2 separate regions of the Homo sapiens genome follow, and region 2 is linked to region 1. Evidence: fine-mapped expression QTL. Tissue or cell type: whole blood. Region 1 holds a variant in brackets; the other region holds the start of a gene. All regions are shown on one strand. Distances are from middle to middle.

Region 1 (8,177 bases):
GCCTGGGCGACAGAACGAGACCCTGTCTCTAAAAACAAACGCGCGCCCTCCGCCGTCAGGCTGGATGGAGGGAACCCAGGGAGACGACTTGGGCCTGAAGCCTCGCCAATTTCAGGTGAGGAAACAGGGCCGTGGAGGAGACAATGTGGCGATCACAAGCAAGCGGCGGCCCGAAGGAGGAGGCTAGACCGGCGGGCGCACAGCCACAGTTCTGCAGTGATCCCCGGGAAGGTGGGCAGCCGGCCCGGTGACCTGCAGGGTCCGAGCTGTAGAAGCCGCAGCCGCCGTCTCCAGGCGACTCCGCCACCCCCGGAACCACGCACTTTCATTTCTCTGCCGGGCGACCCAGCCGAGCCGCGAGGGGGCGTGGCCGGGCCGGGCCGTACCAAGAGCGCAAATTTGCAGGGGGAAGCGCGGGGCTCCGGGAATGCACGCGCGGCTCGAGTGGGCGGGGCGGCGGCCCAATGGCCACGCCCCCACCCCCGCGGCCGGCGAAGGCGGTGGTAGCGCCTCAGTGGTGTGGGCCTGAGCCCTGCCCAGGTGCCCGCAGAGAGCAGCCGGGCTGCCAGCGGTGAGTGCTATCTTTCGCGGCGACGGCGGGGTGGGTGAGGTCGGGCCCCAAGACTCGGGGTTTGCCGGGCGCCTCAGTTCACCGCGGCCGCCTGGCTCTCTGCGTCGGGGTGGGCCCTCGGGCCTGGGCACTGCGCGTCTGGCCCGACGCTCGGGCGGAAGGCATGGCTCCCACCCCGGCCCTCCTCCGCGTCGCCCTTCCCCTAGAGCTGATCTCCCGCGGCGGCCTGAGGGTCGACTTTTCCACAGCTTGGGCCGAGAGAGCCCGGCAGGCCCTCGGCTGAGGGTTAGGGCTCGGTATCTCAGGGCTCGGGGTCCAGTCCCCGCGCCGCCGCCCCCCACGGGCTAAGCCACTTTAACTCTCCGAGCCTCAGTTTCCCCATCTGTACGATGAATGGGCCTCGGGAGGCAGCGAATTCTGGGGGTACCTAACGTGAGAGGCGCTCGATGCATGCTCATGGGACCCGAATCTAACCCTGCAGCATCAGGTGGGCTGAGTCGATGGATCACGGGAGCCCCCCAGCCCGGCCTGCATCCCTGAGGGCAGTGCCCCTCGCAGTCAGGTGTCTCGGCGGCCCCCACAACACAGGTACCCGGATCTCCTGGGGGAGCCGGGACACCCTTAGATCGGGGGAGCAATTGGGTAAGAGTTCAAGGTCTCTTGGGCGCCAGGGGGAGGAGAGTAGAGGTTTCAGTGAGCTTGATTGACTTCGACTTTCTGCGTATTGTTTTTCAAAACGAGTTACCCTTGTGTAAACTGGTGACCACTAATAAGGAGTTTGGGGCTGTTTCAATGAAAGTGGCTGTCTCCTCTCTTAAACCCTTAAAGCTGCAGCCTTGCCTTGCCTTGCCTCTGAGCTTGGCCAAGCTGGAGAATGATGCCAGCACAAAAGGAGACAGGACTGGACTGGGTGGCCCTGGTTTGATTCTTGGCAAGCAAGATACCTCCTGGAGCCTCCGTTTTCTGATCAGTGGGTCTGGTAGTAAGACAGCCACCCTGCTCTCCCCACAGGGTTGAGATTCTGAGGATCAAGACAGGGTCCCAGAGAGTGGCATCGAGAACTTTAATCCTCCTTGTAAGCAGAACGTTTATGGAACCCTCTGGGGGATCCAGTATCCCCACCGTTGTTCACTGCTGTAATTCCTTGGGTCTTGCTTTATGGAGAAGGCATTGATTCATTAACCATTTGCAAGTTCTACCTACGGAAATCCCTTTTGAGTGGTTATGGGGTTGGCTTGGTCAGGAGAACAGCTCCAAAGGCCCAGTTAGTAAACCAGGGAACCCAGAAAGGTCCACTTCCTTTTTTTTGGGAGGAGGGCTGTTTTAGGAGTTCTTATTTTCCTTTTAAGAGAGTGGTTTTTGAGCTACTTATGACCTTCATGCCATCTAATGTTGGAAACTTTCGCTGAGCAGATAGCTTATTATAAAAAGTATTTGTACAACATCCGCATTTCAGAGAATGGGATGCTAGCTGCCAGTTGCGTGGTGGTGTGGAAACTTAGGAGTGATCTTAATTTTCCAAAATTCTTCAGGTCTAGCACTTGAAGAAATAATAGGTAGATTTGAAATGAAACAACCCAGGGATATTCCTGAAAACAGCAGCATTGACCGCAGCCAATGTAAATCAGGTGTGGATCGTCCTGGGTAGTAGGAGTTTATAAATGCCACAGAGGATGTTTGCTGCCAGACATACCTGAATTTTAGGACCTGCTGTTGGTTAACTCTGGGTTGATCCACCCTTAACCCCTTGAAAATCAGAATCTGTGTTAGGTAAGTCTGTGTATGATTAGGAGACAGGCCAATTGAAATCAAAACTGCTTGGCAAATCCAGAACATTTACTCGTGAAGTCCATGGAACATTTCAAGTTAAAAATAATTTAGCTTTTAAGTAACTTTTTTTTTTTTGTGAGACAGGTCTCACTCTGTCGTGCAGGCTGGAGTGCAGTGGCGCAATCATAGCTCACTGCAGCCTCAACCTCCAGGATTCAAGCAATCCTCCCTCCTCAGCCTCCCAAGTAGTTGGGAGTACAGGCACGCACCACCACACCCAGCTAATTTTTTAAATGTTTTTTAGAGATTTGGTTTGCCATGTTGCCCAGGCTGGTCTCGAATTCTGGGGTTCAAGTGGTCCTCCTGCTTTGACCTCCTAAAGTGCTGAGATTACAGGTGTGAGCCACCGTTCCTGGCTTTCTTATTTCTTCTTCTTTTTTTTTTTTTTTTTTCTGATGGAAGCTCTTGAAGTTATAGGACCTTTCATGGTTCCAGAGAGGCTGGCCGCCCCTACAAGAGCTTCGATGTCCTTGTGCTTTAGGGAGGAGCCAGAGAAACAGAGGTCAAGCTCTGGCACTAGCACCGTGTGTGGCCTCAATTGAGCATGTTGGGATTTAACTTTCTGTTATATGTCAGACTCACTTAAAAATTAAAGTTAGAAAAAGGTGAAATGGAGAAATGACAATTTTCTTTTCTTTTCTTTTCTTTTTTTGAGATGGAGTCTCGCTCTGTCGCCCAGGCTGGAGCGCAGTGGGCTCAGTGCAGCCTCCACCTCCCCCAGGTTCAAGCAATTTTCCTTGCTTGAATTCTGCCTCAGCCTCCTGAGTAGCTGGAATTTCGAGTACCCACCACCTGGCCAAAGATTCTGTGCTCATTAGCACACAGCCTCCCAGGTGGCTACAGCCTTAAAAGACTTTCAAATGCCAATTCTAGGCTGGGAACAGTGGCTCACGCCTGTAATTCCGGCACTTTGGGAGACCAAGGTGGGTGAATTGCTTGAGTCCAGGAGTTTGAGACCAGCCTGGGCAACACGGCGAATCCCTGTCTCTATAAAAAAAATACAAATACAAAAATTGACTGGGCATGGTGGCTCACGCCTGTAATCCCAGCACTTTGGGAGGCCGAGGCAGGCAGATCACTTGAGGTCAGGAGTTCGAGACCAGCCTGGCCAACGTGGTGAAACCCCGTCTCTACTAAAAATACAAAAATTAGCCGGTGTGGTGGTGTGCACCTGTAATCCCAACTACTCAGGAGGCTGAGGCAGAAGAATCACTTGAACCTGGGAAGCGGAGGTTGCAGTGAGCCGAGATCGTGCTGCTGCACTCCAGCCTGGGTGACAGAGTGAGACTCTGTCTCAGAAAAAAAAACCCAAAAAACAACAACTTGTTTTGCTGTGCAGTTTTGTCATCTGGCATTGGGCAGAAATTTGGACCCGCCGGGCAGGTGGGAGAAGCATCTGAGTCAGAGGTCACTTACCTGCTTGCATAGGCCGCTGACCTATACCAAGCCTTAGTTTCTTCATCACTAAAGTCAGAGAAAGAACCCACTCCACCTGCCTCTGGGACAGCTCAGAACATGTTAACCCTTTCAGCAGTGGGTCCTTCTTCATCTTCTTGGCGCTGTTTGGATCCCTGTAGCGTGACACATAAAAAAGCACACATCCGGCCTTAGGATATGTGTAGGCTCTGGTTTGGGCACTTGAGAACTCTCACAGGGAGGGAAGCAAGCATACAATTCAACAAGAATGGCACGGTGTGTTGCATTCATTCTCAAGATGATGGGGTGAGGCTTTTATTAGTGCTGAGCCTGCTGTTTGTTTCCACAGCAGGGCTCCAGGGGAGAGGTGATGTTTGAGTTGGGTCTTGGAGGATTGCTAGGAGTTCTCTGAGCCCACCCAGGCACACCAGCTCTGGGGGGCATGTAGGGTGTAGATTGCATGAGGCTGAGGTCGCGTGGTGGCACTTGTCTGAAATGGTCCTAGGAACCATGGGAAGAGATGGGGAGGTG[T/C]TTTAAAAGGTCAGGGCTATGTGACTAGCTCAGATCAGTGTTGTGTGTTTTTTTTTTTTTTAGACAGAGTCTCACTCTGTCACCCAGGCTGGAGTGCAGTGGTGTGATCTTGGCTCACTGCAACCTCTGTCTCCTGGGTTCAAGCAATTCTTGTGCCTCAGCCTCCCGAGTAGCTAGGATTACAGGCACCGGCCACCATGTCTGGCTCAGGACAGTGTTTTCTTGTACTGAATATTCTCTTACTGCCTAATATCCTCTCTGGGTGAATGAACAACCATTTGGGAAATTTTTACTGTGTCTAAATTTGTAATCATACTGTTTTAGAGCTCTACATCTTAAAAGTTTTTCCTCCCCAAGCGAGATGTTTACATCAGTTGTGTTCTTGTTGGGATTAGTGTGCACACGCCTGTCTGCATCTGTGCGTGCGTGTGTGTGTGTGTGTGTGTGTGTGTATGCATATAAGAGGGAGAGAAGATGGAGGAATTCCATGGGGGCAGACCATGGTTCTTTGCAGATTGGTGGCTCCAGTTGGTTGGGTTCACTGGAGCCACGTTCATCAGTTTGTTTCTTTCTTTCCTTTTCTCTCTCTGTATGTTTATTTATTTATTTATTATTTGTAGAAGTGGGGTCTGGCTATGTTGCCCAGGCTAGTTTCAAACTCCTGGCCTCAAGTGAGCCTCCTATCTCAGCCTCCCAAAACGCTGGGATTACAGGCATGAGCCACCGCGCCCAGCCCAGTAACTGTTACTCCTGACGCTGGTCGGTGTGGCAACTCAGTTGATGCTTGGACGTGTTGTGAACAAAGCCCCGGGGAACCTGATCCTTCTGGTGGCTTGTGCAGCAAACTGTTGATGTGGGAAGCTTATTTATTTCACTTGTTAAAGAGGTGACTTGGATAGGGGGATATCTAAGAATTGTCCTTTCATTGGAGTGCTGGAGGGTGTGGCATTCGGATCTCCTTTGTGCAGCATCTGTACCTAGCTGAGAGAATTGTACACATAATTTCCCGAAATGCGTCAGTTTCAAGGCTAACTTAGAATATGTTGGTGGCCAGACTGTGGTGCTGTCAGCTGTGGACTGTTCTCCAAGAGTTGAATTTCTTTTTTTTTTTTTTTTTTTTTTTTTTTGAGACAGAGTCTGACTCTCTCGCCTAGGCTGGAGTGCAGTGGTGTGATCTTGGCTCACTGCAACCTCTGCCTTCCAGGTTCAAGCAATTCTTCTGCCTCAGCCTCCCAAGTAGCTGGGATTACAGGCGCGTGCCATCACGCCCGGCTAATTTTTTTTTGTATTTTTAGTAGAGATGAGGTTTCACTGTGTTGGCCAGGCTGGTTTCAAACTCCTGACCTCAAGTGATCCACCCGCCTCAGCCTCCCAAAGTGCTAGGATTACCAGGCGTGAGCCACCATGTCCAGCTTATAAGAATTGAATTCTTTAGGAGACATTTGGTAGGAGAATAGAAGGGGGAAAGTTGCCTTTTGTCTACTTGGATGTAGTAATGAGGAGGAAGATGGGGCATTGTGGGGCGTGTCCTCTAACTTGGAACAGATGTAATTTATTTCTAGGTGAAAGTTAAGAACAGTGCTTACTCATTCTATTTATCTGCCCTCCTTTTATCTTCGGCACTTTTTCCTACAGCCCTGTTTCTGAGCTCACGTCACATCACCTCTGCGGTGGTGATGCCGGTGTTCTTAGAGCACTGTGTCCTAGTGATACTTTGATCTTCGTGGGCATGCATCATCAGTGCATTGGGTAAGCCGGGCCTGTACAAAGGTTTGCAGGTTTGGTTAGGAACACGTGAACTACGGTCACCTTTCTGAACTTTCTGAACTCATATGTAGTGACCATAGGTCACCTGGGTTGAGTTTTCAACACTGCAAACAGGGATGGCAGTTCTTGAATACACAGGAGAGTGCATTAGCCAGTGGTGCCCGGCATCATTCAGAGTGCAGTTTGGCATCAGGAATGTTCCGTCAGGTATTTGTGGTCTTGTGGAGAAAAGCCACTGTTGGTTTTGGTGAAGGGCTTCAGACCCTTTGACTGCTCATGAAACCACACAGTCTTAACATGGACACGTTGGACGCGTTCCTTACGTAACGTGATTTGCAAACTCAGGAGTCATTCAGCGTCACAGCAGTGATCAAAAGCTCCCAGCCCATCTACCCGAAACCTCCACAACAAGAGCTCTATCTGTCAGTGGCCTCACCGACTTCCTGGGCCCTGAAGCTCCAAGGACAAAAGACTCCTGTCCCTTTTCCCTTCCTCTCCATTCTGGGTCTCCCACCACCACCAAGTCCTGTAAGTTTTTAGTCTTTTTTTTTTTTTTTTTTTGAGACAGATTCTTGCTCTGTTGTTCAGAGTGCAGTGACACAATCTCAGCTCACTGCAACCTCTGCCTCCCAGGTTCAAGTGATTCTCCTGCCTCAGCTTCCCGAGTAGCTGGGATTATAGGTGCGCGGCACCGCGCCCAGCTAATTTTTGTATTTTTAGTAGAGACAGGGTTTCACTGTGTTGGCCAGGCTGGTCTCGAACTCCTGACCTCAGGCGATCTGCCTGCCTCGGCCTCCCAAAGTGCTGGGATTACAGCAGGCGTGAGCCACCACGCCCGGCCCTTTAAATCTCTTTCCACTGCTGTGGTCTTACTGTAGCCCCTTGTCACTTCCTGCTGCGCTGACCCGTAATTGACCCATAATTCTCCCTCTCTTCCCCTCCCTACCACGTTCCAAGATCTGTCCATGGTACCATTGCTGGTTGATCTTGGAACCCTGCTTCGGTCACCCCTCCTTTCTCTTCGCCCAGACTGGAGTGCAGTGGCACGATTTGGCTCACTGCAACCTCCACCTGTCAGGTTCAAGTGATTCTCCTGCCTCAGCCTCCCGAGTAGCTGGCACTACAGGCACGTGCCTCCACACCTAGCTAATTTTTGTATTTCTAGTAGAGACAGGGTTTCACCATGTTGGCCAGGCCAGTCTCGAACTCCTGGCCTTAAGTGGTCCACCCAGCTCAGCCTCCCAAAGTGCTGGGATAATAGGCAGGAGCCACTGTGCCCGGTCACTGTCACTGTCTTATTGCATGTTTTCTTCTTCATCTGCTTTCATAAAGGATAAACAGTGACTTAATAAAAGGTGTCTAATTCTCCCCTCCCTAGTGGCAATACGGTTGGACTAGAAGGTGAATTCAGTTGAGAACAGGGAACCTATCATTTCTGCGAGTGTAAGCTGGGGCATAGAACAATGCCAGGCATAAGGTAGGCACTTGGATGAATGGATGAATGAATAAATATGGCTTCTGTCCCCCAAGTTTACTGCTGAGCTTTCTCCTGCATATTGACTGAGCTCAGATGTCAAAATTGGGTCTGATCTGTAGTTTTTTTTTTTTTTTTTTTTGAGACAGAGCCTGTCACTCTGTCGCCCAGGCTGGAGTGCAGTGGCGCAATCTTGGCTCACTGCAACCTCTGCCTCCTGGGTTCAAGCAATTCTCGTGCCTCAACCTCCTGAGTAGCTGGAATTATAGGTGTGTGCCATCATGCCTGGCTAATTTTTTGTAATTTTAGTACAGATGGGGTTTCACCATGTTGCCCAGCTGGTCTCGAATGCCTGACCTGAAGCAGTCTGCCCGCCTCGGCCTTCCGAAGTGCTGGGATTACAGGCGTGAGCCACTGCGCCTGGCCTGGTCTGTACTTCTGAAGATTATTCCAAAGTACAGTAGGAACTTTTGGTAGGACTTTAGTTTTCCATCCAGGTATAAAATTTTGTGTCAGTGGTGGGGTTGCGCATGTTCAGTAGCTGCAACACTAGAAAGATGGCAAAGCAGGAGCAAAGAAAAATCCCTT
Region 2 (8,177 bases), 40 kb before region 1:
CCTCCTGCCTGGGCCTCCCAAAGTGCTGGGATGACAGGCGTGAGCTGCTGTGACTGGCCAAAAACCAGGAAGTAAATACCGTGTTATACTTGCCATGGTAGAGATGTGTGTAGTGGTAGAAATAGAACAACCTGGCTGGGCACAGGGGCTCACGCCTGTAATCCCAGCACTTTGGAAGGCCAAGGCAGGTGGATCATGAGGTCAGGAGATCGAGACCATCCTGGCTAACATGGTGAAACCCCGTCTTTACTGAAAATACAAAAAAATTAGCCAGACGTGGTGGCGGGCGCCTGTAGTCCCAGCTACTCGGGAGGCTGAGGCAGGAGAATGGCGTGAACTCGGAAGGTAGAGTTTGTAGTGAGCCAAGGTCGCACCACTGCACTCCAGCCTGGGCGACAGAGCGAGACTCCGTCTCAAAAAAAAAAAAGAAATAGAACAACTTGGCCAGGTGCAGTGGCGCACGCCTATAATCCCAGCACTTTGGGAGGCCAAGGCAGATGGATCACTTGAGGCCAGGAGTTTGAGAGCAGCCTGGCCAACATGGCGAAACCCTGTCTCTACTAAAAATACAAAAATTAGCAGGGCGTGGTGGCATGTGCCTGTAATCCCAGCTACTGGGGAGGCTAAGGCAGGAGAATCACTTGAACCTGGGAGGTGGAGGTTGCAGTGAGCCAAGATCACGCCACTGCACTCCAGCCTGGGCGACAGAGTAAGACTCTGTCTCAAAAAAATAAAAAGAAATAGAACAACTTTAGAGATCTAATGACCCAAGTTCAAATCCTAGCTCTTCCACTAACTCACAGTGTGACCTCCTCACATCCTATTCGTCCCTCGGTCAATCTTATCTGTTTTCTTCATCAAAACCCTGCAAGATAAGACTTAGTTCCCATTTTATAGATGAGGAAACTGAGGCTCCCTTACCCAAGATCACTCAGGCAGCGAGTGAAAGAGCCAGGGTGAGGTCCTGCTTCCTCCTGACTTCCAGCCTGAGCTCCACCAGCTCCACACTGGCTGCTTCTCAAATGCTAATGTAGGAGCCATTAATGTCTCCTTTAAGGGAACATTAAAGGAAATGGCCAGTATAACATGGTATTTATCTCCTGGTTTTTGGCTTGGCTCATGCCTGGAATCCCAACACTTTGGGAGGCCCAGGCACGAGGATCACTTGAGCCCAAGAGTTTGAGACCAGCCTGGGCAACATAGTGAGACCTCTGTCTGTACAAACAACAACAACAAAAAGGCCCAGTGGGCTGGGCGTGGTGGCTCAAGCCTGTAATCCCAGCATTTTGGGAGGCTGAGATCTCAGGCGGATCACCTGAGATCGGGAGTTCGAGACCAGCCTGACCATCATGGTGAAACCCCGTTTCTGCTAAAAATGCAAAATTAACCGGGCATGCTAGCGCATGCCTGTAATCCTAGCTACTCGGGACGCTGAGTCAGGAGAATCGCTTGAACCGGGGAGGCGGAGGTTGCGGTGAGCCAAGATCACACCATTGCACTCCAACCTGGGGAACAAAAGCGAAACTCAGTCTCAAAAAAAAAAAAAAAAAGTGCAGTGTCTCACACCTGCAATCCTAGGTTTCCCTTAAGGGAAACGTGAATATCTCCTGCAACTGCCCTCTCCGAGCCTAAACCCTCTGCACAGCAAATGCAGAAAACTCTTTCTACAGAGAGCTAGGTGGGCTGACTGGCCATGCCATCCTAGACTGGTGTACCTCAGGTCTCCTCTTCAAAAAATATCTTGAAATTCTTGCCAGAAATTCAGTGTGAAATGCATTCGGGATGGTGGCTGTTGTTATAACAGTCCCCAGGGGTCTCAATTACGTGAGAACCCTCGGCTTCTGGACAAGAGACAAGGAAGGGAAGTAGGTCACATCCCAAAGGCATCAGGGCTAATAACTTTGCATTGAACATTTTCTGTGGCCCCACTGTGTGCTAGGTGCCAGGGCTGTGGATACAGACACAGGTATAAATCAGACATGGCTTCTGCCCTTGGTAAGCTCACAATTACGGGCACAAATATGCAATGATAGTATAATATGGGAAGTGCCTCAGGAGGCTGAGGCAGCGAACTGCTTGAACCAGGGAGGAGGAGGTTACAGTGAACAGACATTACAGCACTGCACTCCAGCCTGGGTGACAGAGCAAGACTTCGTCTCAAAAAAAAAAAAAAAAAATTCCTGGAAGACTTGTTGCCTAATTTTAAGTTACTTAACTTCTCTGTATCTCCATTGCTTCATCTGTAAAACGGGCGTAATTACAGAACCAGCCTCACAAGGGTTGTGAAAATGTAATGAGTAACTACATAAAAAGCACACAACAGGCTAGGCATGGTGGCTCACACCTGTCATCCCAGCACTTTGGGAGGCCAAGGCGGGACGATTGCCTAAGCCCAGGAGTTCAAGACCAGCCTGGGCAACAGAGCAAGATCCCATCTCTACAAAAAAGAAGCAGCTAGCTAGGTGCGGTAGCACGCACCTGTGGTTCCAGCTACTTGGGAGGCTGAGGCAGGAGGATACCATGAGCCCGGGAGGTCAAGGCTGCAGTGAGCTATGATTGTGCTACTGAAGCAGGACACACAAGCCCCAAAATTTAGCCTCCTTCCTTCAGAGCCAGCAGGAGCTTCTAAGCTATGGGGGGCAGCAGTTACAGCTGAGTCAAACCAAAGCCTGCAGCCAAGGGCAAGGAGCTGATAACACTAGGGTGGGTGTGTGGGGAAGGAGCCAAATACTTCTACCATGTGAGGGGAGGGAGTACTGGGCAGGGTCACTGGAGAAAGCGAAAAAGGTAGTACCCTTGAAGGTACTGCTGGGCACAGTGGCTCATGTCTGTAATTCCAGGACTTTGAGAGGTCAAGGCAGGCTTATCACCTGAGGTCAGGAGTTCGAGACCAGCCTGGCCAATGTGGTGAAATCCCATATCTACTAAAAATGCAAAAATTAGCTGGGCGTGGTGATGCACACCTGTAGTCCCAGCTACTTGGGACTCGGGAGGCTGAGGCACAAGAATCACTTGCATCTGGGTGGCAGAGGTGGCAGTGAGCAGAGATCACGCCACTGCACTCCAGCCTGGGTGACAGAGTGAGACTCTTGTCAAAAAAAAAGGAAGGTCTACCTTAAACAGCTGTTCTCCAGCAAAAGCACTTTTCAAACTGTAAAGTGCTGAAATAGATCTCGGTTATGAGTGTTCTATTACATCCCTAACTTTTGAGTCCCTTCCATTGAATCCCTCTCCCGTTTCCTGTCCCTTTTCCTTTTTTTTTTTTCCGAGATACAGTCTTGCTCTGTCACCCAGGCTGGAGCGCAGTGGTGCGATCTCGGCTTGCTGCAACCTCCGCCTCCTGGGTTCAAGCGATTCTCCTGCCTCAGCCTCCGGAGTAGCTGGGATTACAGGCACGCGCCACCATGCCGGGTTAATTTTTGTAGTTTTATTAGAGACGGGGTTTCACCATGTTGGCCAGGCTGGTCTCTAATTCTTGACCTCGTGATCCGCCCGCCTCGGCCTCCCAAAGTGCTGGGATTGCAGGCGTGAGCCACCGTGCCCAGCCTCCTGCCCCTTTTCTTCAATATGAAGATAAAGCTGCCCCTGGCTGTACTGGAGGCCAATTCCGGGCCATAGCAGGAGGAACTGAGTTCTAATTCTGTCTTTGCCATGTAACTGAATTACCCAGGGCCCTCCCTAGTCCTGTTTCCTCTTTGGTGTAATAGGGATGAATACAGATGGGAAGATCGTGATATGAAAGAGTTCTGTGAGCTGTAAGGCATAATAATCATGAGGTATTATTACAGGACCAACAGGTGCCTAGGCCCGCTGTGCAATAACAGACCAGTTACACTGAGGAAGCAGGGTTATCAGCAGAAAAAGGGTTTAAAGATGGCAGGGTGCCTAGGAGGAGACGCAGGGAGACCAACAAATCCATCTTCCCCAAGGAGTTCCGGGCTGGGATTTTAAAGGGCATTGTGAAGGGTGAGGGGCTGGAAAATTGGGGTCATCGACTGGTCAGGGTAAGGGGGTTGAAATCCTCAGGATATGGAAACTGCAGTCCCCATTGAGTCTTGCTTCTGTGGGCTCCTTCAGAACAACTGGTGTCAGTAATTATGCTGGTATGCGGGACCTGAAAGAATATCTCCAAGGGAAAACGTTTCATAATGTTCAAGTTGTTATCTATGGAGTTAAGGGGAATTGTAATCTTGTGACAGGGTCTACGTGATTCTAGGACAGACGATGGGCACCTATCATAGCTGATACACAGAGCTATGAGCAAGCAGGTCGGAGAGCAAGGTGACCTAGTGATGAACGCAGAGTGTGCTGCAAGCTTCGTTTATTTTCGTTTTTCCCCCTCCCTTCTTCCCTGATTAATTTCCTAAAGTTTATAGGAGCAGTTTCAGTACCAGCCCGAGTAGGATGGAATCAAACACGGTGCTGGAACATTCCTACCCGGAAGTGGCCCCGACCCCCCTCCCCCCGTCCCGGCCTCCCACGCACGGGGGGGGGGGGGGGGGGGGCTGATCGGCGCTACCGGATTGGACAACTTGGCATGGGGCGGGGCCTCTGGGAGGCGTGGCCTCCGGCCGGCTCCTCTGCTGTTGCCAAGGGAAACTGCCGCGAGGAGGCGGAAGGAGCAGAGGACCGGCAGCCGGCGTCGAGGCGGGGCGCGGGAACGACGGCGGCCATGGCGGCCTCGGGGCCCGGGTGTCGCAGCTGGTGCTTGTGTCCCGAGGTGCCATCCGCCACCTTCTTCACTGCGCTGCTCTCGCTGCTGGTTTCCGGGCCTCGCCTGTTCCTGCTGCAGCAGCCCCTGGCGCCCTCGGGCCTCACGCTGAAGTCCGAGGCCCTTCGCAACTGGCAAGGTGAGCAGGGGCGGGCCGGGATCGCGGGGCGAGTCCTTGTCCTCCGACTTTGCCGGTTCCTGGGCTCTAGCCTCCGGGACTCGCCCCTTCAGGCCTCACCGCCAGTCTCCCCCTGTCTCGGTCCTCATCACCATGCCCGCCCCCCGGAGGACCGACCTCCAGCACCGTCTCTTGCTCTCCGTGTTCCACACCTTTGTCTGCAGACCCCATCTTCGTCATCACTGTAATCCCTTCCCTACCCGAATTTGTTCCCTTCCCTGTCGCCACCAGACTGGTTAAGGCCCCAAATCCATTCGCTAGCAAATCCATGCTCGCTCTCCAAGGGTAAAGATTTTTCGTCTCCCCCTCCCATTTCACATACACACCTACGTCTGCTTTAGGCCTAAGCCCCACTGAAAAACGTTTTTCTCTCACCTACATCACGACAATTGGACTTTATCCACAAACCCCTATAAGCCCTATAAACGTCCTGCCCTCTTGAGATTTGGAATTTCTTCTGCTTTTTCATCTGTATCTTAATCTTGACTGCCATTCCCAGCTCATGGGGGTACCAGGGTGTCTTCTGCCTTTGGAGAGAAGTGTTTGTTTTTCTCTAGGGGAGAGAAATTTTGCAGACCAATTAAGTATAAACATCCATTCCTGAAAGACATTCCTAGTCTCCGTGTCTTCCTCATTTTCTCGAGAGGAACACAGGAAATTTGCATATCTCCTGCTGTTTTGCAAAGCACACACACTGATATGTATTAATTTCGTTTAACCCTCACAAGGATCCCATGACGTAGGACCTGTTATTGGCCCGTTATCTAGATAAGATTGAGGTTTCATGCAGAGAATCGCAGAGCTGTTGCGTCATGCAATTGAGATAGGAATCTATATTTTTTTTTTTATTCTGTGATGTTTTGGAACTAGAGCCTTCGGGTAGATAATCTCCAAATCATGTACAGTTGCTTCTAGAATCTTTTCATGTTTATACTTGGAATTTCAGTTTTGGAAATACTCAACAAATAATGAAGTACTCTTCAGATAATGAAGCCTCTGGTGATGGCCAGACTGAGGTATATGGTTCCATAGCCTGCTTCCCCACTCCAATCTAAAACTGTTCCCCCCACCCTAGGTATACATAGCACCACCTCACAGACAGAAGCAAAATGCCAACCTAACCTTAACCTCCCACTTTCTGGGGTTCACTGCTTCCCTGGGTGTGGGTTTCGTGGATATGTGAGCGTTAGAGACGTAAGGGACCTTTGAAGTCCTCAATCTAACTCTTGTTACTTTACAGTGAGGAAACTGACGCCTAGAGGACCTGTGACATGATTAAACTCAGCCAGCCTGGATGTAATAGAGCCAAGATTCCACTCCAAGTCTTTAGACTCCCAAGTCCAATATTACCATCAGTTCTTTGGTCTCTCTCCTTGAGTTTAGTCGTATTTGGGCATGCAGGGACATAAAAATACTTAAGAGATAACCACTTCTAAAATTTTTTTAGAGATAGGGTCTTCGTCTTACCCAGGCTGGAGTGCAGAGATGCAATCATAGCTCACTGCAGCGTTCAACTCCTGGAATCAAGCGAGCCTCCTGCCTCAGCCTCCCAAGTAGCTGGGACTACAAGTACACATCATCACACCTGACTAATTTTTAAATTTTTTTTAAAGACGGGGGTCTCACTATGTTACCTAGGCTGGTCTTGAACTCCTGGGCTCAAGTGATCCTTCCACCTAAGCCTCCCAAAATGCTGGGATTACAGGTGTGAGCCACCATGCCTGGCGATAACTGCTTTTAGAAAAATAAAAGGCCAGGAATGATGGTTCGTATGTGTAGTTTCAGCACTTTGGGAATTCAAGGCAGGAGGATCACTGGAGGCCAGGAGTTCAAGGCTAGCCTGGGCAACGTAGCAAGACTTTGTCTCTACAAATAAAAATTTAAAAAAAGGAAAAGGAGGATTCTTTGATGTCTTATTACATATAAAGCATCAGTTTACCTGTGAGATCGGATAAGCACTTTCTGAGGAGACTTATAATTTCTATAATCTTTATTGTTAATGATAGTGTTATAATTCTTACAGCTGCAAAATAATTCATGGTCCCTTTTTTCTTCCTCTGAACAGCCACTATGGAAGGAGGGGTCAGGATTACAGCAGAGGAGACTGGCACACAGAGTGTTAAGTGACACCCACTCAATCCACCCCGAAGCTGTTACACTTAATTAACCCTCAAACTGCCCAGTGAGGTAGGTCAGTATGAAAACCTGAAAAAGGATTATAAAGCACTTTACAAATTCAGAGACTGCCCTCTACCGAAAAGTATTATTTTTTTCCCTCTGGAAGTCAGTTACCGCTAAGAGTTGCACCAGGCCTGGGGAAGTGTAGGGATTAGATATTCATGCCTCTCCTTTGAGGCTCTGGGTCCTTCATTGTTGAACGCACTGCTTGTATTGCCTCCTGCTGCGACTCACTGGCTCTCACTTCTCTGTCACGGAGGGGGGCTCTCTGCCTTTCCTAGGCGGCTTATAACCTGGCTTCCCTCCTGGGAGCAACCCGCCGCCAGGCCTCTAACCCGACTCCCTCTGCAGTTTACAGGCTGGTAACCTACATCTTTGTCTACGAGAATCCCATCTCCCTGCTCTGCGGCGCTATCATCATCTGGCGCTTTGCTGGCAATTTCGAGAGAACCGTGGGCACCGTCCGCCACTGCTTCTTCACCGTGATCTTCGCCATCTTCTCCGCTATCATCTTCCTGTCATTCGAGGCTGTGTCATCACTGTCAAAGCTGGGGGAAGTGGAGGATGCCAGAGGTTTCACCCCAGTGGCCTTTGCCATGCTGGGAGTCACCACCGTCCGTTCTCGGATGAGGCGGGCCCTGGTGTTTGGCATGGTTGTGCCCTCAGTCCTGGTTCCGTGGCTCCTGCTGGGTGCCTCGTGGCTCATTCCCCAGACCTCTTTCCTCAGTAATGTCTGCGGGCTGTCCATCGGGCTGGCCTGTATCCTTCCTAGCAGAGAGCTATAGAACAACGCATGTCAAAGGGTGAACCAGGCTGGAGGGTCTGGGGTGTCAAGTAGATAAAATTGGGCTTACTTTGTATTTTTTCGAAACAGAGTCTCTGTCACCCAGGCTGGAGTGCAGTGGCAGGATCTCAACTCACTGCAACCTCTGCCTCCTGGGCTCAAGCAATCCTGCCTCAGCCCCCTGAGTAGCTGGGACTACAGGTGTGCACCACTACACCCGGCTAATTTTTATATTTTCTTTTTAGTAGACACAGGGTTTCACCATGTTGCCCAGGCTGGTCTTGAACTCCTGGTCTCAGGTGATCTACCCACCGTGGCCTCCCAAA

What was found. PIP is the estimated chance that this variant, and not a neighbour inherited with it, causes the effect.
Region 2: RHBDD2 starts here. The variant in region 1 is fine-mapped to the expression of RHBDD2 in whole blood (TOPMed, PIP above 0.99).

The regions. Positions count from the first base shown.
Region 1 is chr7:75,914,609-75,922,785 of GRCh38, forward strand. It overlaps POR (cytochrome p450 oxidoreductase), which reads left to right and starts at 547. Exons shown (of 16, transcript NM_001395413.1): 1 at 547-571. MIR4651 (microRNA 4651) reads left to right here and starts at 589; the gene lies at 589-661. It also overlaps the pseudogene RPL7L1P3. RefSeq lists an enhancer at 1-4 and a silencer at 265-754. The variant T/C (reference allele first, on the strand shown) is at 4,349.
Region 2 is chr7:75,874,411-75,882,587 of GRCh38, forward strand. RHBDD2 (rhomboid domain containing 2) reads left to right here and starts at 4,624. Exons shown (of 4, transcript NM_001040456.3): 1 at 4,624-4,850; 2 at 7,419-7,826. The coding sequence starts at 4,673. RefSeq lists an enhancer at 4,320-4,928 and silencers at 4,475-4,724, 4,825-5,004.